Regions from separate parts of the Homo sapiens genome. Here region 2 is linked to region 1. Evidence: fine-mapped expression QTL. A gene starts in region 1. The other region holds a variant in brackets. All regions are shown on one strand. Distances are from middle to middle.

Region 1 (13,052 bases):
CTGAGATTGCAGGAAGCTGAATTGTCTTTTCTTTGAAAATTTAACATTATTATTATGACAGGGTCTTTATTTTATTCCTCTGTATGAGTCAAGGTAGGATCGGTGTCATAACAAACAATTCCAAAAATCTCAGTGGCTTAATACAATGAGAGTTTATTTATTGTTCATGTCAGATTTTAACTCAGATAGGGAATGTGGGTGATTCTATTCCACTCAGTCCTTCAGGGATCCAGTCCCTGTCCATCATGTGGTATAGATCGCTTTCGCCCAGATTTCATTGGCTAGACTCAATGACATAACCACTCCTAACTGTAATCCAGCTGTATGCTCAGGAGGAAAAAAAAATGGTGCTTTGTGAATGCATAGTAGTCTCTGTATTACCTCCCTTAAATTGGAATAATATGCAATAAAAAGTCTGAACTCTTCTAGATTGTTTCTTAAAACAGAAACTCACCATTAAAATTAGAAGAATGGTTATGTAGTAAACATTTTGGCTTTGAGGTGTCCCCAGTACATACTTGGGCATTTCAAATTGGTTTTGGGGAGACTGAGGGTTGCTGAGCTGTAGGGGCCTTGATTCATGGTCCCACATCATCACATGGAATTCTATGGGGCAGTGATTTCTGACCTGAGGGCTCCCATTCCTGAAAATTCTCAAAATGGATCCATGAATCCACATGCAAAAACACATCGAAATCAGCCACTGAGCCAGGACAGGGGACATTACATAATGTCCAAGAGCACAATACTGCTCTTTGTTAATGATGCACTTCTAGGAATTGGGTAGTGTTTCTTGGAGTCTGTTTATGATGTCGTCTACCAAACTGAAGGGTGTTTGGGGAGGAGTGACTAAGAGAATGGGGACACTTCAAACCATATCATTCATTCCACAGCATTGAAAGCCTTCCACGTTTTATTCACTGTGGGCTGGAGGTATGGGGAGAACAAAAGCAGCAGTGTTTCTGCCTTCATGGAACTTAATAATGGTGATAATGAACAAGGGAAAAAATGCGTGAGCATGTTAAATTGAACTAGTTATAAATTCATGAAGAAAATAAAATGAGGTGCTAGGGGCTATCTGGTAGGGGCGGAACTTCATTAGCTGGAGTAAGTCAAGAAAGTCTTGCTGAGGAAGTGAGATATTTTAGTGGCGAGCTGGATGATAAGAAGGATCCAGCCATGTGGGAAAGAACATTCCAGATAAAAGCTCTAAGGTGGGAATGACCTTGCTGTGTTCATGTAACAAAAAGGCCAGCGTGGCTGGAGTCCTGAGCAAAGGGGAGGAGTGGTGAAGAAGCAGTCAAAGATGGGCTGCGTCCATCTCGTGGTGTTTGGATTTCATTCCAAGTGTGATGAGAGTTTTAGGTAGGAAAGTGACATAACTGGCTTTACATTATTAAAATGGCATTCTGGCTGCCATGTGGTGAATGGACAAAACAGGAGCTGGGTGGCACATTGCCCCAGAAGACGGGAGTATAGTGATTTTGCTGCTGGGGTCTGTGTTCTACGACGTTTTAACCCTAGGTTCTCATAAGAAACATGGACGGTGCAGCTGCAGGACTGATGTGTGAGCAGCTTTGCAATCTGCTGTGTCAAAATAGAAAGCTGCACTCTGGTACGCAGGGATGTCCCTTCCACTACACCCTCCTTCTTTCCCGAGGCAAATTGCTAATTGCCATCAGCAATTACTTAGCAAGACTAAGACTAATTAACTTAATCTTATTATGAGAGGTCATATTCTGGCTAAAGTGCCTTCCTAGCCTCCCTTCCAGCTGGAGAGTGGCCAATGAGATATAGGCAAAACATGTTGGGTGGGACTTATGAGCAGACTCTGTAAGAGGCACAGTTCTGCTTGGAACATACATGTGATGGCTGGAGATAAAGATAAATCCTGGGCTGCGGCAAGCTTGAGGATGGAAGCCAAGAACTCAGCAGGGTGGGGAGAAAGGTAAAAGGAACTCAAGTCCCTGATGACAACATGGAGGTGTCCTGCATCCCTGGATTGCCTGGTCCACACTTTTTTTATGCAAATGAAAAAGAAACTTCTATCTTGTGTAAACCACTTACATTTTTCTTACTAGTAGCCAAATATTAATACAATTGCTAATTAATCTGCTTCTCCTCCCTAGCTGAAACTACTTTTTGAAACAGCATTTCCTAACTTCTGTGACACGCTCTGTGACAGTTTCTTTGATTAGATAAGTTTGGTAAATGCTGTGTGCTAGGCCTTCTTTGATCACCTTATTTAAACACTACCCAAAGTGCGCTCCTTTTACCCTCTTCCTGCTTCATATTTTCCCGTGTTCCTTATCATGATCTAACATACCATATGCTTTATGTATGTTCTTTATTACCTGTCTCTTGTACCTCTCCCTGAAATTCAAAACCAAGGACTAATTAACAAGGAGGAGAGAGGACAAAGTTCCTGATTCTCCCCCGTCTCTTGTCAAGCTGGAACATTTTGTCTGGTGTGAACTTGTCAGGAGATGGCTCCCATTTTCCTGCTTCTGGCACTAATGATGAGTTTCCTAGATTGTCTTGGTAGAGGTCAAATGATGAAGGGGAGAAAAGCTGTGTCCAGCATTCTCTATCTGAAGGGAGCTGGCAGCAAGCGATGCTGAGATCTTGAGCAGATGACCCCAGATAGGGTGTGACATCTCCACTTCCAGGAAAAGGAAGGCATTTTTTTTTTTCCTGGTCTGGACATGTTGTGCTTTCAGGGTCACACATCCCTGGGCTGTCCATTTACTTCAGAAATGCCCCCAGTTGTTAGTGAGGCAAGATGCTTGGGAGGTCAGGCCCTGGATCTAATCTGGGAGGACAGGCCTTTTATTCTGGTTCTGCAGCCTTCACACCTCCTCAGGGGAAAGCTATTGGCCTGCTCTTGTCCATCTTCCTCCCCTTCCTTGCTGCTACTCAATTTCTGCAGTTGTGAAAGGGAGATAGAAAAGTCTGAGATCTGCCTGCTCCACAGTAGTTTAGAGGAAATGAATCGAGCAACGAAAAAAATCTCAGCTTATTGTTTTTCAATAATATATTGCTGCTTAACAAACTATTCTGAGACTTAGTGGCTTAAAATAAAGCAATTTATTATTTCTCTTGGTTTAATACAAGTACAAGACAAGATAATGTATGTAAAGCCCCGAGTAGAGTGCCAAACACAGAGTTGGCACTCGATAATTGTTAGGCCTTACCATGAAAATGACCTTGCCCAGGAGAATGTCCTGAGACCATGTGTTATTGTGAAATTGCATATTGGAGCAGCACAGGAGAACTGTTGCACAGCTTAGCACTAGGGCTGCCCCTATGGTGTGCAAGGCCGCTGGCAAATATTTGGTGTGGGGCCTCTATTTATGTAAGCAGTTCAATTAAAAATGTATCACAAAAATTCATGTACCAATGAGAGGTTTAACATTTTATTGATGAAGATTTAGAATAATAGGTAGAGATGCAGTATTTGCATATGTGTTTATTGCCACATCGATGCACATGAGGATTCTTTGTCACGTCCAGCCATCATGTCTTCTTGTTCAGGTCTAGGTACCATCTATTAGTGTTTTATTTTGTTTTGTTTTGTTTTTACTGTTAAATGCACTGGATAATATTACCTTGCCCCCTACCCTTCATGAGAAAGAGGTAGCAAGAGGTGATAGTACTCACAATGCTATGGGTTATTGGAACTGTTCGTATTGAAATCACGTAGATCTTCTTGCCCTACGGTTCCCTAGAACCCTTTATTTAATGCTGGCTACTTCATTACTCATGATACGGCATCATCTATCGTGCTGCCACAGGTATTGTCTTCCAATGACTCTCTCAGAGGTTTTTTTTTTTTTACCATGTTTTGTTGATGCTGGACAGTCTTATCCAGAGTATGCAGGAAAATATGAGTGATAAATCATTTTTCTGGTCATGTTAAATTTACCATTCAGAATTTTATAGTGTACATGCACAAAGACACGTTTTCCAACCATGTCATCTCTAGAACTCTTTAGGCCATAATCACTGTATTCCTAGCATGTGATCTCTTTCAATGTTGAGCAGATCTTGGGTGCCAGTGGTAGAGGTGAAAAGGGTAAAGTACTCCTGCTGCCACCTCTGTAAACCAGAGGCGGAATCTAGATGGACGAGTTGACACATGTACCTACACATGTGGCTCAAGCCTCTTTCTGCTTTACCTGTAATTTTCCCTTTCCTTGAATAAATGTATTGGCCAGAAAAATGAAGAAGGTTCTATATCAGTCAGTCATAGCATTGATGCACGATGCTACTACAGGGTAAGGAGGGTTTGAGGAGGGGACGGTTTAAGGAACTTAAGTGAAGAGGGGTTTCTTATTAGCATTTGGCTGTATTAGCTCTTCGAGGAGGACACTGGTTTGGCCAGGGACTCTGGTGGCAGCTTCTTAGAAATGATCTCCATTGCTAAGTATGCAGAAAGAAAATATTAGAACTCCTATTTATATTTACTTATGGTTAAAAAAATAAGAAAAAAATAAACTTCACGAGTTTAGGGTTGCCAGATAAAGTATAGGAGGCCTAGTTAAATTTGAATTTTTACGTAAACAATTTTTTAGTGTATGTCCCAATGGGGACATATTCACTTATACAGAAACATAGATATACATATACGTAGATACAGATATGTCTTATATTTGTGTGTATCTCATATAGCATACAGATATATGTTTTTTACACATGTTGTTATCACAGATAGTTATACAGATATTAGTTTTTTATGACAGGTATTATGAGGTTGTAAAATAACCTCACTTGTTCCATTTGGATCTATGCGTCTTTGTGGGATCTCTCTCGCTCTCTCTCTTTCTTTTTGTGGGGGCTGTCACAGCTTTAAAAACCAAGTATCAAAAGAAACTGAATTTAGCACAATACCTCTAAATTAAACTAAATCAAAAAATAAAAGCGCTAGTTTGATAATATTTCTCTCCTTAAAAATGTCAGATTTTTCCAGTGAGAGTAAAAGTGACTTTTGTGCCTTTAATAAATGAAACAAAATTAAACCTAATTTTAAAAATATTGCATTTTCATTTGAACGCTTTTAAGATTTCAATTTTGGGAGCATGTTTTGTAATGTGATAATACAGTAGTATATTAGAAGGTATATCTATATATATATATGCACATTGTAAATAGAGATATGTGTATTTGGAGGCGTGCAAAGATGTTGTATGTGAATAGGATGCTTGACCCCGAAAGTTTGGAGACTCCTGGCTTAAAGTACTGCGTTAGAAAAGATGTGGTATGCATGTTGGTCTTAATGGAAGCAACTACTGATCTTAAGAATAATTCCTTGTTCTTTTTTTTTTCTTTTGAGACAGAGTTTTGCTCTGTAGCCCAGGCTAAAATGCAGTGGCAGAATCTCGGCTCACTGCAATCTCCGCCTCCAGGGTTCAAGTGATTCTCCTGCCTCAGCCTCCCGAGTAGCTGGGATTACAGGCACGTGCCACCAAGCCCAGCTAATTTTTTGTATTTTTAGCAGAGACAGGGTTTCACCATGTTGGCCAGGCTGGTCTCGAACTCCTGACCTCAAATGATCCGTCCACCTTGGCCTCCCAAAGTGCTGGGATTACAGGCGTGAGCCACCACGCCCAGCCCGTGGTTCTTAAGTTGCAATCACTAACACTCTTTTGGTTGAACAGACTGCAAAATTTCACCAGATTTATACTTAGATGCCCAGACAGGAGACATTTGGAAGCCCTTCAACTTCCTGTGTAAAACCTCAGAAAGAGTGACCACACTGCTTGGGAGAGTAACTCAGAATCGTCTGTGGCAGAGACCTGGAGGTTTACAAGAACACCTCATTCCTTAGTTCCTGGCTGCCTGGAATTCATAGGGAATTTGCCAAGTACATTGTACCTCTGTATATCTAAAGACTGGGTAGGGAAGGGCAAATGGCAGTGGAGCGTGAAAACCAGGTCCTTTTCCAGCACCTCTCTCCCGGGGCAATCACATCCTGGGCTGGCGGCTTCTGCTTTGCCGCGGGAGCCTCTGAAGGGCACAACCCATCCTGGCAGCCATGAAAACAGGTGGTCCCAGCTGCTGGATTTGTTGCTCTGTAAATCAGCAATAGGCATCCATGGGATGGTGATGTGACTCACTCCAGGGCCCAGGGTGGCAGGGAAGCACTCATCCCAGCCAGATCCCCCAGCATGCTTCAGGGGTGAAGCAGCAAGGCCCTCACAACTGCAGCGAGAGAAGAGGCTGGCAGCATGGGTGGCAGGAGGCTTGGCAGCCTCACAGGATGCCTGCAAATACCTTTCACTTATGCAGTTTGGCAGTGCAGTGGTGCATGGAGACAGCGTCTTGGGCCTGGTAAGGAAATAATTGGCTTCAGAAGCAGACTTCTTAGGTTGCAGTCTTGAGACTGAGGCTTCAAACAGTGTGGGAAGGGCCGTGACATTTCCAGAAACCCTTCTCTTTTGCTGGCCAACAGATGGTGGCTCTAAATCTGCAGTGCAGTCAGGTTAGAAAAGAAGAAAGTATTTAGGGCGCTAGTAGAGCCATTATTTGAATAGTATGGAACATAATGGTTTCTTTGGTAACCAAGCCAGGGAGACACCCACACAAAGTTAGAATGCGCTGGGCTCGTTTCTGTTCCCCACCCCACCCCCTAATCCCACAAGATTAAAATAGTATAAAGAGAAAAATGAGATGCAGCAGCATTTCACACAAGAGGGGATTTGTTCCCAACGAGAATGTATTAATGACCTGTCTCTTATTTTGTGGGCAACCAGATATAGCAGGTTTTTAGTTATGAATCTGTGTTCATGGTCACTCAGATGGTTTACTCTCTGCCCAGACTTCAGCACTTATATATAGATGGGGCACTGAGAAATATGAGATAGGGAAAAAAGAGAAACATTTAACCCATTCCACACTGCACATATTCTTAGTGCTAACCAGGCGGAGGCAGCATAGAAAAGGCAAAACGCGTTTGAAAGGAAACCATTTGTCTTTGAAGAATAATTTCTCTTCAGCTCGATGAGTAATCTCTCTTCTAGCTGATAAAGTTCCAAATCCCTACTCTGGGTGAGGCTTTGAAAGTGTCAAATAACAGGATTCAGATACAAAGAGTCAAAAGACCCCCTCAGATTCATACTGCCGTCCAGTAGAATTTTCTGTGATGATGGAAATAGTCTATATCTGAACTATCCAATGGAGAAAGCACTGGCCTCATGAGGCTATTTATATTTTAATTTTAAGAAATTTAATTTAATTTAAAATTTAGTTCATCGGTTTAAATTAAATAGCCATATGGGGCTAGTGGCTACTGGATTGGAGAGTGCAGTTAGAAATTCAGAAAGTGGATGATTTTCATTACTGTAAAATCACCAAATAGTAATTTTGTCCTTCTTGTTTCACTTTGCTATTTTTTATTCTGATGTCAGCCTTGCTTGTCTGGAAGTCACCCCATAGGTTACCATAAGCAACATTTTACTTAACTGTTCTAATAATAGTGTTTCCAGGGGCCCTGAGCACTCCGCAAACATCATCTCATTAATTCCTCCAAACTCCCAATGGGACAGGTATGGAGTACAGATAATTATGTTTAATTTTATAAAAGAGAAAAACAAACAGTAGCCTCAAAATGTAAATTATTCGCAGTAAAGGGCCTTCTGGAATCCCAATGTTACCTCGTTGGCCTTTCATTGTCCTTTATAGTAGGAACTTAGCGTTTTCTCCTATCAGGGTGAACCATTCATCAAACATGTTGGGAATAAATGAAAAACCTACTGCATCTAGTTATAGATGGAATATGGTTTGCTTAACATTAGGTTTAAGCAGCTAAATATTTCTTTCCTTCTCATTTCTACTGTAAGACTTGAGACTATACTTTACTCCTAGGTAACCAAGATAATTAGAAATGTGCTGCTTGTCTAGAGTAGCAAATCATCCTCAACTTTTTTTGCCCTCTTTCATGCCTCTTTCAAGGATATAATACATGTACTTTTTTTAAAAAATGCTTCTTTATACATGGTGCTTATGAGAGTGACCAGGAAGCATATGGTAATATGCTAACCAGACAGTCCTAGGAATTGAGGAGCTCTATGAAATGCTTTGATTTGTACAATGGACATTTATGAAGCCCCTACTTTGAGTCAACAAGTGTGCCTGGGACTGTGGATACAAAGTCGGTAAAACCAGACAAAATTCCAACCCTTGCGTTTAAGAAGCTAAGAGACATTGATCAAATAATCAAGACAATATATGTAAAATTTCACCTATAGCAGGTGCCGTGGTGGGAAGGTACCTGAGCTTGTAATGGGGAGAGTTGACACAGTCAGGGAACCAGGGATAACCTGTCTGAAATTGGGGCCAAGAGCTAAAGGCTGAGTAGGAATCAACTAGGTAGAGGGCAGGTTGAGCAGAGAGTTCTAGGTAGAAGAAGCAGCATGTGCAAAACCCTGAGGTAACATGGAGCACGGTGAACATGAGGGACTGAAAGAATGCTGTTTTTGTTTGTTTGTTTGTTTGTTTTTGAGACGGAGTCTCGCTCTGTCACCCATGCTGGAGTGCAGTGGCGCAATCTCGGCTCACTGCAACCTCCGCCTCGTGGGTTCAAGCGATTCTCATGCCTCAGCCTCCTGAGTAGCTGGGATTACAGGTGCCTGCCACCACGCCCGGCTAATTTTTGTATTTTTAGTACAGACAAGGTTTCGCCATGTTGGCCAGGCTGGTCTCAAACTCCTGACCTTAGGTGATCCGCCTGCCTTGGCCCCCCAAAGTGCTGGGATTACAGGCGTGAGCCACTGCGCCCGGCCAGAAGGCTGTTTTTGGGGAAACATATAGAGGAAAAGTGAGCAAGGTACAAGATAGGATTGGAGAGGTTGGCGGAAAGCAGACCAGGCAACACCCTCAGGCTACTTTAAGGAGCTATGTTTTTACCTTACAAGCAATGGGTTCCATTGAAGGGTTATTGGGTGGAGGTGGAGGGTGTAGCCCATGAAAGATGTACATTTTCAAAAGATCCCATTGGTTTATATTGGAGAGTAGAGAACAGTTTGGATCATAGTTATACCAGGAGGTGGTGAGGAGCAGGCTTAGATTTGCAAAGACCATTCATTCTTTGCACCTGGATTTATTTTGAGCCTATCAGGCAGCCTCAGAAGTTGTACTTAACCACATTCCTCATCTATTGCATGATGTCTTTTGGTCTATTAGGGTGCTCTTATTTTTCTAGTAGGCCTAACCTCAGCAATGGTAGGTGGTGGGGAGTGGGGAAGTTCTGACCTATATAGTGTTGTAAGAATATCTTCTGTGACTGGTGATTTCACCATCTGAGGGTTTTTCCTTTTTTCCTCTTTGTTGCTCGTTTTTTCCAGAAAAGGTAAACACTATTATTTCCTTTTTTCACTTTGATGTCTTGAATCCTTCAATATATGCTGAGTTAAAAGTACTGTTTCAAATTCCTTTTCCACAAGGTTTTTATCTTACTGTGTTCCAGGCTTGTGAGACCAACTATGAATCTGATATAAGAGTTTCTGGGTTCATGCTGAAAGTATAACGATTTCAGGTGATTTGAATAATGAAATAGGAAAAAAGGTCCTGAAGTTCCATTGTGCTTTTTTGTATGTGTGTTTATTATAGTCCTTATTCATTCTGACTTACATTACAGTTATTTGCGCATGCATATGCAGCTCTTTCTACACCCCCACTCACCTTTGCCTTTACCTCCTACTCATTCTTCATATTTCACACCATCATCACTTCTTCCGGGAGGCCTTTCCTGACCTTTTTGAGTAGGAAGCTTCCCTTTCTTATACGCTTTCATGACCTGTGGTCACATGTGTAACTTCCACTCACTCTTCTGCTGTTTGGCCCGTGTCTGTCTGCTGAATGAGGAGGTCTTTGGGGGCCTGAACCTTGCCCTTGACTGAGGTCACTATTGGACCCACTGCACAAGCATAGCACCTGCTCACTCAATGTTTGCCAATGAATGGATGACACTTACAGAAATGTTCTTTAGGTCGTGGCTTTTTTTTTTTTAAATGTTTGACCTATTTCTTCCAACACTTGAAGAACTGACATAAAACTTGTATTATTGATTTCAGTCATCTCACATGTAATTTTCAGCTGAGATGCCAATATTCAAGTGGACTTAGCTTACCACTTGAAATATATTAAATATAGTCCATTTAAAATGGGAAAAGTATGTTAAGCAGCATAAAATATACAGGAATATAGTGAAGTGGTTAAGAGTACAAACTCTGAAGCCATACTGTTAGAATCTGAAATCATGGTTTTCTAGCTCCGCTCTATACCTCAGTTTCCTCATTTGCCAAATGGGGATAATAATAATACCTATTTCAAGTAATTGTTATGAGGATTAAGTGAGTTAATTTATGTAAATCACTTAGAGCAGTGCCTTGCATATGTGTTAGCTATTATTACTTCGTAGTTATTATTATTAAAAAGGACAGGTGATGTCATACTCATTAAGCCTGTGTAGCAAAAATGTTCAAGTTCTTCCTCAGCTTCTTTTTTATAAGTTGAAAATGAGCAGTTTACATTATTCTGTTTATGTTTTTGTTCAATACACTGATTTGATTTTTTTCAGTTCCCACGTTTTAGTATCATTCAGATGGTAATGGAATTAGATTGTTTTACCACCGAAGTTTATTGCAAATGCTGGAAGGCTAGGGAAAACTAGGGATACTGAGATGACACTGATAGCATCAAATAATTTGAGCAGCTTAAAAGAGGGTATAGGGGCCTCAAGGCTGCTGAATTGGGCTCCCCAGGAGAAGTGAGTGGGTGTGTATATACGTGTGTGTTGAGGGGGCGGTGCGGAGGTTACTGGACTGGAGGCAATAGGTTTATGTGTACATATTTTAAGCTTTTAATTAGAGGATAACAACCATGTAGAAAGGTGTATATGTATGATAAGTGTACAGATTGAATTTTTACACGTGAACACACCCACAGAACTAATGCCCAGATCAAGAAAAACAGAATATAACCAACAGCCCAGAAGCCCCTTCCAATCACTAATCCCCCTAACACTAATTAGTATCCTGACATCTAACCCTGTAGGTTAGTTTTGCATATCTGTATTCTTCATTTGGATAGAATCATGTAGCATATACTCCTTTGTGTATGGCTTTTATTCTCAGTACAATATATGTGAGAGTATTCTATATTGTTGTGTGTAGTTGTATGCTATTCAATCCTATGCTATATGTTATTCCATTGTGTGCAAATGTATTTTTCCATTCCATTGTTGATGGGCATTTGGGTGGCTTCCAGTTTGGGGCTACTGTGTGCTTCCTTGAACGTTCTGATGTATCATTTGGTGCACATATGTGTGTATTTCTGTTGGGCATAAGTCTAAGAGTGGAATTGCTGGGTCATAAGATATGTAAGTGTTCAACTTTAGTAGATTTTATGTGTATTTTTTCAAGTCTTAGAGGTGATTCCGATTCCTAGCCAAAGCTGAGAACCACTGATCTATAATATCTGCCCAAAAGCAAGGTTTAAGGCCACACTATCAAAGCTTGGATGAGCTCATTAAAGATGTAATATTTAAGAAGACGAACTACAAGGATCATCCACACTAACTCACAGATAATGCCAATATCTGTTGCTTCAATAGTTACCTTGCCTTCTCCATAGGGGTCGAGGTGGGTGGGTTAATGCCAGATCCTGGCTCTCTCATTTTCTTTTCTCCCTTGGTTTGACCCTGATTTCTCTCAGGTTCAGCAAAGTGGAATGCCAACCAAGAACTGGGACTGAGGGAAAGCACTGCCAAGCACTGTTAATTATTAATGAAATGAATTTGCATCAGACCAGAGGGGATTAAAGCAGCTTAAAATGAATAGCAAGTTCTTGATAAGGCTTTTCCTATTCTCAGGTGACTGGAATGATGCACTCGTGTTGGAGCACATTAATTTAATAGAAGCACTGCTTCCCCCTGTACAGCGTGGAGCTGGATGTAAGCCCAGCCCAGGGACAGCAGGTTCCTAAGCAATTTCTGCTTATATGGCTGTGGCGAAATGAAGTGACGTGAACACAACATGCTGGACTGAAAAAATGCATTAAACATACCTCAAAGCAAAATGTCCTTTAATGATACTACCACAAGCACTGGGGAGAGAAAAGGACCTTGTTGTATAGTATCAACCAGATTGCAGTTCAAACTCCAGGTCAGCTTTCCCGGCTGTAAGAACTTGGGCAAGTTACCTAACCTCTCAGAGCCTTTGAGTTCTTCATCTATAAAATGGGATAATCATATGTACCTCAAGAGACTGCATTTAAAGTGCCTGGCTCATGAGAGGCACCCAATAAATAGCAATTATTATTGCATGTGGTGCTGTGAGCAAAACTGAGAATATAACCATGTGGTAGAAAATAGCAGTGGAGAAAACGTGGTACTCTAGAAGCTAGCCTTCCGACAGATGGCAGGCCCATATTGAAAACGGAAATGTTTCCTGCTGCTACAAATCCAAAGAAGGTCTTCGAGTCTATGTAAAATATAAAGGGATGGGCTACCAGAATTTTCTATTAGTTCATTGCACACACTTGCACACACAGGCACACATACATACCAAGAGCGTATGGAAAGTTAACTATTCTTGATGACTGGTAAGAATGTCAGAGTAGCTCAGCAGGGCCTTCTAGATACATGAGTGTTAAAATTATGAGTTTCCCTTGAAGGATACTGTCCCCAGTCAAAGGAAAGTCACTTAGGTATTCGTGTTCTGCTCCGGGTAATTCCAGTCCTCCTTGGCCACAGCTGACTGGACGGTGAATGACTGTGAAAGCTGGGGCCCTTTAATCTATCTTGCTCATCTTCTAAGATCTAGTTTAACTGTCATTATTTACAGAATGCTTTCCCTAACTGTTTAAGCCATTAGGATGGAACTGACTTAGCTGGGATTGTGATATGATGGGAAATGGCTAACAAGCAGAGGGACAGACTGGTTATTCTATCTAAGCCTTAGATGCCAACTGACATGCCAAGGATGATGCTAACAGTAGTGTGACATTTACTGAGCACTTATTTTGTTAAGGAATTGAGCTCAATACTTCTCATG
Region 2 (12,279 bases), 550 kb after region 1:
CTTTTTCCCCTAGCATAGCATAAAGAATATCCTACAAAATTCATTCTGACCTGAAGTCCCATGATTCCTTCACGCGGATTCTTCTGAAAGAACAGACTATAGTGAGTTTAAGCAAGTATTTGTATGGGTGAAGTGTTTCTTTTAGGGATCACTCTTACATCTTGCAGTCTTTCAACTTTCTCTTGCTTCTCACTTCCCAGATATGAATATGTAAATGGACCAGAAAAGAGTGGGGTAGCTTTCTGACTTTATAACTTCACACTGAAGATAAAGGATAGATGCGTGATAGTATTTTCTCCTTAGATTGCCAACCATTTAAATGCCAAATCTTCTCCCATCTTAACTCATATGAGAATAATAAAAGTCATTTAAATGGAGGTTGCCATGTGTTCATTTATTCAAGAAAACTTTGTTGAACACTTAGTAAGTACAAGGCACCATATTAAGGTAGAAAGGTGAATAAGATAAGTACAGCTCTTTTCTTCATTGAGCTTATGGTCTAGCATCCTTACTAATTCAGTATCTAAAATAGCTAATCACTTGGGTTGTATAATTTAGCATCCATTAGAAGCACTCCAAGAGGCTTGGCTGGGGGGCATTTGTAGGTCACTCAAATGAAATGTTAACTCCTTCTAGGCTTTATTTAGCAAGTCAAACTTAACACCTTCAATATAGGCAATTAGGATCAAAAGGTGTTAAAGCACATTCAGGCACAAAGCCATCTATCAAATTAAATTACTTAATCTTTCAACTAGTTGCTTTTAAAGTAAATGACCCTCCAAAGTTAGTGGGCATTAGTGTGGCCTAATGTTCAAATGCAGTTTAAAATCTAAATGCTGATATTCTAAACAGATCACACTCACCCTCCCATGAAATGTATCCTTGATTTTAGACTTTTCCCCTTAAGAGATGTTTAAAAGTAGGTATCTCCTCTTTCTACAGAGAACAGGGCCATTTTTTTTAGAGTAGTCATCAGTGTGCCATTGTAAGTGGAAATTGTGCATTATGAACTGAACAATTCCAGGAATTCTATGTCTAACCTTGGGTTCTCCCAAAAGTATATCACGAGACAAGAAGTGGGTTCAGGTAGTTAATTATAAGAAGTGCATACAAGAAGGCAGGGGAAGTGAGACAGAGAAGGGAAAAATCCCTAAAAGAATTTTAATAAGCAGGTTATCTCAGTGGACTCCTAGGCCTCAGTCCTATTGAGGACCCTCTGAGCAACCATGTAGAACGTGCTTCAGAATAATTCCATCAGAGAACAAAGTAATATGAAATATTTATCTGCCAACTCTCAGCCATTATGGGTTGCGGGTAATCCCTAGGGCGGTTAAGTTTCAGAGGCTTCTAGGCTTCCCAACAAGCAGGCTGGGCAAGCTGCCACAGTTGCAGAGAAAGCCCTTGCATGGAGAAGCAGTGAAAACAGGCACTTGCAGTGGAAAGTTATCAGCATACTAGGAAGTGTTCACTACACCTACATGTTTATTTAAAGGTGGGCTGAGGGGATATGAGGCGGAGCATCCCCAGCATTGGTACACCCTGCAAATTGCTGTAAACTGGATTTGCTTAAAAAAGAACCATGATTAGCTAACATTTGACAAAATGTTGGTCCATAGGCTTATTTGGAAACAATACTTTGTTTTCTGCAACGCGTCCAAAGAAAATTTGTGTACATGTAGATTTATAGCACTTAAAATCTTATCACAGTAATGTTTATTTCATCGTATCAAAAACTGCATATCATCATTTCTTCTTGCCCATACCCGTGATTTTTCTGAGGGCTAAGAGGAAAAGGGTATTCAATGGAGCAGTTCGCCTCTACAACAGAGAAAACAAGGGATGTTAAGTTCAGGGTGCCATTCATGCCACATTTATTCATTGATGATAGTAATACCTTGTGCTTCTTTACCAGCTTTTCCCATTTGGCCTGATGACAACATCCTTGGAGTGTCAGAGAAGTTATTATGACCTTTACTTTACAGCTGAAGAAACTTTGTTTTGTTAAAACCATGAATTGTGCACTTGGGATGTACTCTATATTGGGTTAGATGTTCTCCCTTAAGATAGTTCAGTTAATCTTGCCCAGAAACTTGGGTATTTTTGTCCTTGTTTTAGGGATGAAAATTCTGATCAGGGACTGGTGGAGTTCCCATGAGGCAAGAAAGTCTGGTAGCAAGACCCAGTTCCTGAAGCTTCAACTTCAGTGTTCATTCCCCTGAAACACTTGACCTTTCCAGGTTGTCACCAGATTCCCCCAACGTTCCCCAACAGATATCTAGTCTTACATGTTACAACTTTCATAGGACCTTGCATGGTACCAAATTTGTTGAGTGAGTACATTCTACACAATCACAACACACTGAAGATATTTTTTATCTGTGCAAACTTGACCTCCATCCAGATGAGAGCTGATTTGATTAAAAGGTTCATGAGACAACACCCGCTGATCAATCAATGTTTTATGTAATCTACTTCCTTCTGCTTTCTACCAGCTTTCACTTGGTTAGTTACGCCTGGGTATTCTACTTATTGACTAGGCTCCAAGGCCACATGTGAACTGGCTTTTCCTTATGTCTACAGCCTCATCTCACAGGGAGCTCCCTCTCATTCTCTCAGGTGTAGCCACATTGGCCTCCTGTTCATCTCTCTTACATGCCGTGCTCTGTGTCATCGGTGCAGCATTGAACATGCTGTTTCCTCTACCAACAATGTTGTTGCCCTTTGTCATCACCAAGTAAACTCCTGCTTATGCTTCAGATCTCAGCTCAAGCATCACTTTTTCAGGGAATCTTCTCTAACTTATCCTCTGTAGACTCTAATAACACTATGTGTCTCTTTGTTGCTATTATTAGAACTTTATAATTTATGTGTGTGTGTGTGTGTGAAGATTTAATCAATATGTGTCTCTCATACCATCTTGCATGATCCATTACAGCAAAATCCTTATTTGTTTGGACTTACCAATGTACCCCCCAGCACCTAGCAGCCAGCTACCATAGGGCCTTACACATGGCAAGCACTCAGTAAATATGTCTTGAATAAAATATATCAATCTATGTTAATAATTCCTCTGAGTTGGACCTAGAGTCTTGTTCTCAGCCCTAGTGTTTCTCACTTAGGAAAGTACTGCCCCACCCTGGGGGCATTTGGAAATGCCTAAGGGTGTTTTCTGGTTGTCAGGATGACTAACTGCAACTAACGGGATTTGGTGGCAGAAGGGATAATGATCATGTCACGTGTGGATAGTCTATCCAAGGAATAATTGTTTCACCCAAAATACCAGTAGAACCCTGTGAAACACTGCAAGAAAGATTATGTATTACAATAGTAGGCATCTAAAGTGTCTAAAAATTGTGGAGTTTGGGGCTTTTAAAATTCTTTATGATATAACTATACATATTTATGGGGTACAGTGTGATTATTTACATGACTTATACAGTGTATAGGCACAAGTTTATGTGTGGATGTGCATATGTGTGTGTGACTGCTCTTTTTAGTTAATCTTATGTCAATTAGTAATTAGTTTACAGATTATTTTCCCAAGTGGTGTCAGAAAGAAGGGCTGCAGGGAAGCAGAAGGAAATGGCGATAGGAAAACTGTCTGACAGATCAGAAATGTTAAACCTAAAAATGACAAGGGGGGGTCCCATGTTAATCTGATTTATACTGCTGATATTTCCCTATATATTTCCTAAGTTCTTTCTTGCTTTTCTATTTTTATCTGGCTTCTTATTTCTTCTCCAGGTTAACTCCCCATTCTGACACGTTCATGTGTTTGCTTTCTTCCTTTTAGTTCAAACAGAGAATTGAGATTAATTTTCTGTACTGTTTGTGTCCAGAGTCACAGCCTGTGGTTGCGATAGAGAAGCTTGCTAAAGCCTGTGTCAGTGTTTCTGTTATACCATGAGAGCAGTCCAAATGTCAGTGGTAAAGTTTCCTTTACTAGACTGAAAAAAATCATTTTCATCATACCTTTCCTGCATCAGATGCCTGGAAAAATACGGGGCAGAGATGAAAACTACTGTAAGATAATGGGACAAAGCACTAGATGGGGACTCCAGACACTGGGGAGCCCTACTGACCAACTCGAAATCATTTAACCTCTTTTGACCTTGGTTTTACCATTTTAAAATAATCAGAAGGCCAGACAAGATAGCCTCTAGGGTCCTTTTCTGATCTAAAATTGAGTTTTCAAGTTTGACAAGGGATAAGGGAGGAGAAAAAAAGATATAGGAGATGTTATCTTGGAAACTAGGTAGGTGTATGCCTTACCATGTATGAAATTGTAAATCATGTCTTATTTCTTTGGAATAGTACAGAAGCTTCTATTCTGGAATAGAACAGCTAGCATACTACCAAGACTTTTCAAGGAGCAAGAATGGAGCTCCCTGGAGAACTGACTGAACATGGCTTCAGAGGCAGTATCCAT[G/A]TAAGTAACTACATAAGAGTTTAAGTGGGCCATGGGGATAAACCCACGCTTTAATCCCACTTTCTGACTGTCTTCTATACACCAGGCTTGTACTTATCCACTCTAAACCATTGTTTCCTCAAGTGGAAAATGGGAAGGATGGTAGCACCCACTTCACAGGATTATGGTAACTAAGTGAAAAAATGTCACATGAAAACATGTCTTAGCACATGGTAAGTGCTCCATAAATAATTGATGTGATTACTATAAGCAAGCTAAACTGATCAAGAATGGAACCATTTAATAAATGATTCTTTGGTTACCAGAATTCTGCCCCCACTGCAACCCACCTCTTCCGGAATGGCTGATAAATGCTTGCATGAAATAGCCACTCAAATGGCTGCTACCAGTCAAATGCTGATAAAAGATATATTTAAAAGGTATTACTTATTACTTTTTATTGAAAAGGTATGATTACTTTTTATAAATTTATTTCTGTTCTTAAAACTGCTACAGATGGTTCTGACTTTTGAATTAATCACACTGATCTAGGAAAAGGCCACATTTACTGTTTAGTCTATCGTGGATTATGGAGCCTCATGTGACTCACTGATAATTTTCTTTTATTATTCCTTCCAGAGACATAGAGACAAAAAGTGCCCTCACTTTTACTGTATTTTGACCTGGACCAGTCTACATTTATATGAATAGCTACAAAGCAGCTTTCAGCACAAGGCTGTAGGGTAGGTTCAGATTTGGCCTCTCCATTAATTAGTAAGTACCATTAGCTGGGCAGACAGCTGCCAAAGGGACTTTCTCCACACTCCCATGAGTTGGTCACAGAGATGTTACTGTACTTTTTTACTCATCACCATGATTAATTGCTGCACTTAGTTCATAATTTCCCCTGGGAGTTAACCCCTAGCTTGGGATAAACACTAAGGTTTTGTCAAATCCTCCCATTCTAAGATTGGAATATTGTTGCATCATCCTGTTGGATGATTCAGGATTTTAAAAGTTCAGAGCACTCTGATATTCCGACAATTATATACACATTGTTTTCAGTCTTCTTCTGCTTTATGATCCTTGTTTATATTTCTTTGTGTCATTCTTTTTAGTAATTATTTCCATCGTTTCTTAAGCATAAACATGTTCTAACTGGCTGTGCGGTAGTGTTTCAATAGAGCTCGTCATTTCTAGGCAAGCTCTTCTAATAATATTTTATATTTTTAATTTATCTCCTTATATTTTGCTGTAATATGGGTTTCATTGATTTTTAAAATGAGTTTTGTTTGTTGTAATATAAGGTTAATTCTGTTATGTGCCAGAATTATACATTTGACAGTTTTCCATGGAATTATTTCAATTGGCAAATTAAATAAACTCAGACTATAGCCTCAGTATTAGTATTCTTAATGGATACACTTTTTAAAAGTAAAGACAAATTCCCTGACCTAAATAGTTAGGCAGAAAATGAGACATGTAAAGTAAAATCAGTATTTCGTTTCTTTGAAACTTTATTGTGACTTGAAACAGTGCAACAAAATATCAGTCTAATGCCATATTACTGATTTTACCAGTGCTGTAATTTTTAAATAATAAATGTATACTTTACTGATTAATGACTTGAGAGCTGCTTACTCTTCATCAACGTAAAACTGCTCTTCAAGTTTCCCATTCCACCTCTGCGGTATCACTTACTTTCAATAAGCTCATCTCTCATTTAATTTAAAATGTAAGGTAGTACATTCAATAGCTCTCTACATCAATTGTTTTTAACTAGATTAATTTATGCCTATGTAAGTATAAATAAGGCCTTGAAGTTGCTTGCGTGATAAATAATAAATAAAATACAAATTGTTGAACAGATCAATGGAAAAGGAAATAAGAGTGGATTAATAAAATAAAACCAGAAGATACAATTAGTTTAAGAAATGCCTACTGTAAAATCCCATTAAATCACTAGAAGTAGAATGTAGATTTGGCTCTGAGCTTCCCAGTAGCCAAAGCAAAAAGAACTGCATTATTTGCAAGGTTGACTGTTTTTGTAATATGTTTTAAGGTTTTGTTTCACAAAAAACCATCTTTTCCTGATATGAGCATGAAGAGATATTTCTCTTGAGAGTCCTGATGAACAGCTTGTTACAGGATATGAAACACATTGTCCTCAACGTCACTCTGACAGTAATTTCGAAGGGAAGTTTCTGTATTTTTGTTTCTCAAAAACGTGAATTGTAGCAGTAATGCCAAAGCAATATTCAGTAACACCAGTTTTACATGTAACCAAAACAATGGAATACAAGTTTGGGAACAATGACATTACATGTTTTATCCAAGAATAATATTTGGCTACTCCCGAAGAATGAATGACCTTTATATTCTTCATTCACAAATATATATTTATGTGAATAAAAATAGAATACAAGTACAACACTATTATATTTTTATTTATTCAGTCACCTGTGATTTGGGGTTCAAAGTATTGACAAGGACACCTGAATTTTTCTCTAATATACTCTGAGATGGCTTTTTTTGAAGTGTTTTTGTTTTGTTTTGTTTTGTTTTGTTTTGTTTTGTTTTGTTTTGAGATGGGGTCTCACTCTGTCACCCAGGCTGGAGTGCAGTGGCATGATCTCAGCTCACTGCAACCTCTGCCCCCTGAGCTCAAGCGATCCTCCTTCCCCAGCCTCCCAAGTAGCTGGGACCACAGATGCACGCCACCACACCCGACTAAGTTTTTGTATTTTTGGTAGAGATGGCATTTCATCATGTTGCCCTTGCTGGTCTTGAACTCCTGGCTTCAAGTGATCCGCCCGTCTCAGCCTCCCAAAATGCTGAGATTGCAGGCATGAGCCACCACACCCAGCCAGCTTTTTGAAGTTTTGGTACAGTAATTACCTGGAGTAAACAAGGTGGTGATACAGGAATACCTGAACAGTGCAGAAGGCTTAAGGAAGTAAAAGGTTAGAATAGATTTATTTTGTGATAACAGTGAACCCACCACCTGACCGTATTCCCCAGAGGGGTCATAGGACAGTTCCTTCACTCAGGCAATAAGAAATGGCAATGATCAACGAAATGTCCTCTGAAGGCTAGGGTAGACAGAAAGACATGCTGCCATGCAATTGGACCTCCTAATATCAATGGAGAAAAGAGGGAAATTCCGGAATGGTAGAGGCCAAAAGCAACACTTAACCTTCAGAGGCAAGGCAGTCTTTGTCTCAGATGCTGATTTTTGGGAAACCCCAAGATAAGACAATGATGAAGGCAAAAACCAACTCATTTTACTGGATTATTTTATTTGTATTGCTACGTAATAATTGTACATATTTAGGGAGTACATGTGATATTTTGATACATGCATACAATGTGTAATGATCAAATAAGAGTATTTAGGATACCCATCACCTCAAACATTCATCGTTTCTTTGTGTTGAGAACACTTCACATTTTCTTTTCTAGCTATTTTGAAATATACAGTAAATTATTGTTAACTATGCAATATAGAATTACTTGCTACTTTACTTATTTCTTAGCACTTACAAGTTTAAATTCACTTAAAATGTTATGACCTAGAAAGGCCTACATATTTTCATTATGACAGTACAGCACTTCATCATTTAGTAAGTCTTTTTTCTGGTTTCTTCTCCCTACCTCCCCATTTTTAATAATTGAAACCACTTTGCTTTTGATCATCCCAAGCACTTAAGTGACATAAGTCTTTCAGCTGCTGGATGAATAATGTATTTATAATATTCATAACTGCGTGTAAAATAAACAGCTCATTTGTTTCTATTAACGTAGTCGTTTTGAAGTCTGTTCTTCCTCTCAGATTCTTTTGCCAATTTAGAAGTGAAAATATATATATAGAAATTGATTCAGTCTTAATGACTCCCACTTAATTCTTCAAACTGGAAAGTAGCTGGGTAAATGACTCACTATGGAACTATTTCTTACCATTACAAATGTTCTCCAGCTACTCTCAGTAAAATACCTTTATAAAACACCTAATATGTGCCCAGTATAATGCTAATTTAAAAAGAACTCCTGGCCGGGCGTGGCAGCTCACGCCTGTAATCCCAGCACTTTGGGAGGCCAAGGCAGGTGGATCACCTGAGGTCAGGAGTTCGAGACCAGCCTGACCAACATGGTGAAACCCCATCTCTACTAAAAATACAAAAACGTTAGCTGGGCGTGGTGGCGGGCACCTCCAGCTACTCGGGAGGCTAAGACAAGAGAATCGCTTGAACCCGGGAGGTAAAGATTGCAGTAAGCCAAGATCACGCCACTGCACTCCTGCCTGGGTGACAGAGCAAAACTCCATTTCAAAAACCAACCAACCAAACAAACAACAACAACAGCAACAGAAAACAAAAACTCCTTAAAGCTACTCAGGATTGGATATAAATTTTATATAGACATCCCCAAAGATGTAAGTACTGAGATATAATCCCTGAAAAAAGATAGTTACATACATTTGGATCAACAAAAGTGTTTGACTATCTTTGCCCTGGCCTCAGGTAGGTCTATAAGAAGACTTTAAGGATAAACCAAAGGTAATAATAAATAAGTTAACATACACTGGAAGGATAAGCACTGGGAAAACTGAGCAAGGAGTGAAGTTTATCTTTAATCTCCCTCTTCCCCTTTCTGTATCTTCTAGTATCTGAGATCCCTGCTATCTGTCAAAAGCCTATTGGGCATTTCATTCCAGACCAGTCACCCCCTCAGTAAAGCTTTACACCATAATAGGTGTGTGTTAGGAGCTTGGTGCCAGGGGATCTTGAAAACTGAGAGACCTCTAAACCCCAAAGCTATGATTCTGTAATGGGGTGATTTCAAGCATTGCTGCAAGTTAAAATTTTAGGGTAAAAAAGCATTATTCCTTAGGATTTGCCAAGCACTTTTTGTACCTAGAGGCAAAAGAGCCCTAAAATCACTTCTCCATGAAACTTTCTTTGACACAGAAACTTAGAATTGTCCTGTTAAATCTTAACAGCTAATGGTGATCATCTGGTGGTTGTGTGATTTTCTTATAAAACACAGCTTTTTTAGGATTGTTTGAGTTTTCCAGTGTGTCTTTCTTGCAAGTATCCTCTCTTATTTAGAACATAATCTTGGCAAGAAGCTGTGTGACTATTTGCCTTGACTTGCTTGGACCAAACACAAGCAGTCAAAATAAATTTAAAAGATGAAAATGATGATTCATTTGAGGTATTTTTTTAAGGTCCTCGCATGTGTCCTAGAAACTAGGTTCTTTGACACTATTTCATTTTGGGGGTCAAAGAAGAGAAAGCTCCAGGATCTGTCAAATTAGTTTTTAAAGGAATATGTGTAAGAAAGCTAGGGAAGGATTTTTTTTCCCCAGTAATGTATGCCATACCACATTTAAAATAAGGAGCAGTAAATGCATGGAGTAATATTTTGTATGCACAGATGGATATATAAATTAGTACCTCCTATTTTAAATGGAATGCTTCCAAAAGTCTTCTATTCTTCCTTCCTGGAACAGGCAGTTCAGGGATGACATAGAGACTAATAGATGGAGTGTTTTAGAAGGGATTTAAGCCCGGGGTGAATGGTTGGACTAACCGACCATTAAGACCATTTCCAAACCAGATGTTCTATGATTTTATGAAACCATATATGAAGCCTATTATCATGTTTCTAGGTTTCTTTTTCAAAATTAATTATATTAAGTTCACAAATAATTTTCCTAGCATGCTTCACATTGTCTCAAGCTATGATATAATGTTTGGTTGAGTTTTAGTTAAGAGACCATGTGCGTTTAAAAAAAAAGATATATACATAGTACCTAAAACTACCAGAAAAACAGTGATGACTGGAAATCTCACTTATTAACATCTTTAGTAGAAACAATACATGGTACAGAGGGTTAAAGAAAGATAAGACGTGTATGCTTATGGAGAAAAGGGGTCACGCTAACCAAGAACTTTTTTATTTTTGAAAGACACAAGGTAAGGTTTATGACAGGGAGCCCATCAGTCTTAAAATCATGCTTTCTGACTCAAATCTAAATATCAGTATTGAATATTGTGTTATAATGAATAACACTTGCACCGCCTTGTTTGTTTCAAACAATATGATGTTATCAAACACCACTCTCAGTATGTCAATAAATACAATTGTGTATACTTCAGTTATACAGAGAGTTAATATAAGTTCAATAACTGGCATATTTGTTATTAAATAGGATTGTAATAACAGGTCTTGGTGTTTCTGGACTGTAGCACAGCTAGGTGAATCGTCCTCCCTGACATTGAGCATCAAAAAGTCTTTTTACTTGCCACTCATTTTGCAAGGTCTCAGGGGACAGACGTTTTGCAAACTCTGTGAAATCTTAATAACAGCCTAAAGGAGAGATTGCAAATGTAAATGAACAGCCACAGCCCCTTTAAACATGACTATATCACACAGATGCTATACATAGCAGCTGAAAGCCAAATAATGGTTTGAACTGAACATGACTGGACGATTAAGGTCACCTTCCGCAGCTTTATAAGCAGTTTCTTATTATAATGGTCTTCTGACATTTTTTCTCCTATGACATAATTGTTGCAAGAGGTTGACATTCTCATTGGCTCATGGGAACATTTCCTTCTTTCATTTGCCTTTTAGTCATGTGTCTGAACTTTTATTTGGTATTTCCTCTTTACAGTGAATCCTAATATCAATGAGATTCAATACAATAACTTTTCTAGAACTTGATTGAAGGTATTGGTGTTTTTTTCAAGTATTTGCTACTTATTACTGGCTATACCTTTTTTCTTTAAAAGTATACTTTTCTATTTATGATGGACAATTTGAAAAATATAAGAAAATGATCACCATGATCTCATGATCCAATGAGCTAAAATATTGTATTTTAAATTCTTTCAGAACCTGTTCTATGCATATATGCATATAAAAATGAAGTTTGACTTACTGCAAATAAGTTTATCTTGCTTTTGCCTTTTTATGATTGGTTATTTTATATATAACAAGAATATCATACACACGTGAGATATGTGAATAAGGGTAATATAAATACCCCTGAACTCACAATCATGCTTGAGAGATGCAACATTTGAAGTTCCCCATGGGCACCCTATATTGCCCTCTCCAACACTATCCCCTTCTCTATCCCACTCCCCAAAGTGGACACTCTTCTCAATGTGGAGTGACTGCTCTGTCAATTTTCTTTATATTTTTGCTACACTGGCATGGTGACTCTCAAATAATGATACTGAACTTTAGGAAATCTTCTGCAACTTTTTTTCACTCAACATTTTGTTTATGAGAATCATCCATTTTGAAATATATGAACATTTCACTTCTATATGGTATTCCCTATTGAAAATATACCATTTTTATTTATCTGTTTCATATCAATGGATGTTTAAAAGCATTAGTATGAACACTTCCCTATCAATGGATATTAAAAACAACAGTGGTATGAACATTTTCACCCATATCTCTTAATGAAAATGTGCAAGTGTTTCCTTAGGGTCTAAATCTAAAGTGCAATTACTGGGTTGCAGGACGTGCTCAAAATTCAACTTTATTAGATAAAAATATTTTACCAGAATGGTTCTTCCAATTTATACTTTCCCTAGTAGCATAAAAGTGTTCCTGTTATATCTTGCTTTTATCACTTAATATGATTAGCTTTTTCTCAAGTTCAGATGGTCTGTCTTTCTCTAGGCTCTCTCTACCTCATCAAAATGCTTGCACAATCATGTGATTTTCCTCCATATGCCAAATCTTGAGTAGACAGCCCATAGGAGGCTCTAAGCAGGCTAATCAACATGGAGACACTCCAGAAATAGTTGAAAATAAGGCTTGTTGCCAAATATATGAAATATTTTTGC

Alleles and levels. Alleles are on the strand shown, and positions count from the first base shown. SD is a standard deviation of normalised expression in the study named.
As copies of A replace G in region 2, the expression in sigmoid colon of the gene that starts at base 6,198 in region 1 goes up (small effect, 0.31 SD a copy in GTEx).

What was found.
Region 2: its variant is fine-mapped to the expression of PTCHD1-AS in sigmoid colon (GTEx, PIP above 0.99). The same link has a PIP of 0.9 or more in cerebellar hemisphere and prefrontal cortex.

What each region holds. Positions count from the first base shown.
Region 1 is chrX:23,286,292-23,299,343 of GRCh38, reverse strand. PTCHD1-AS (PTCHD1 and PHEX antisense RNA) reads left to right here and starts at 6,198. Exons shown (of 12, transcript NR_073010.2): 1 at 6,198-6,330.
Region 2 is chrX:22,735,379-22,747,657 of GRCh38, reverse strand. PTCHD1-AS (PTCHD1 and PHEX antisense RNA) reads left to right here. Exons shown (of 12, transcript NR_073010.2): 4 at 4,320-4,429. Among named protein-coding and RNA genes, the nearest start is that of DDX53, 260 kb to the left of the region's middle. The variant G/A (reference allele first, on the strand shown) is at 4,430.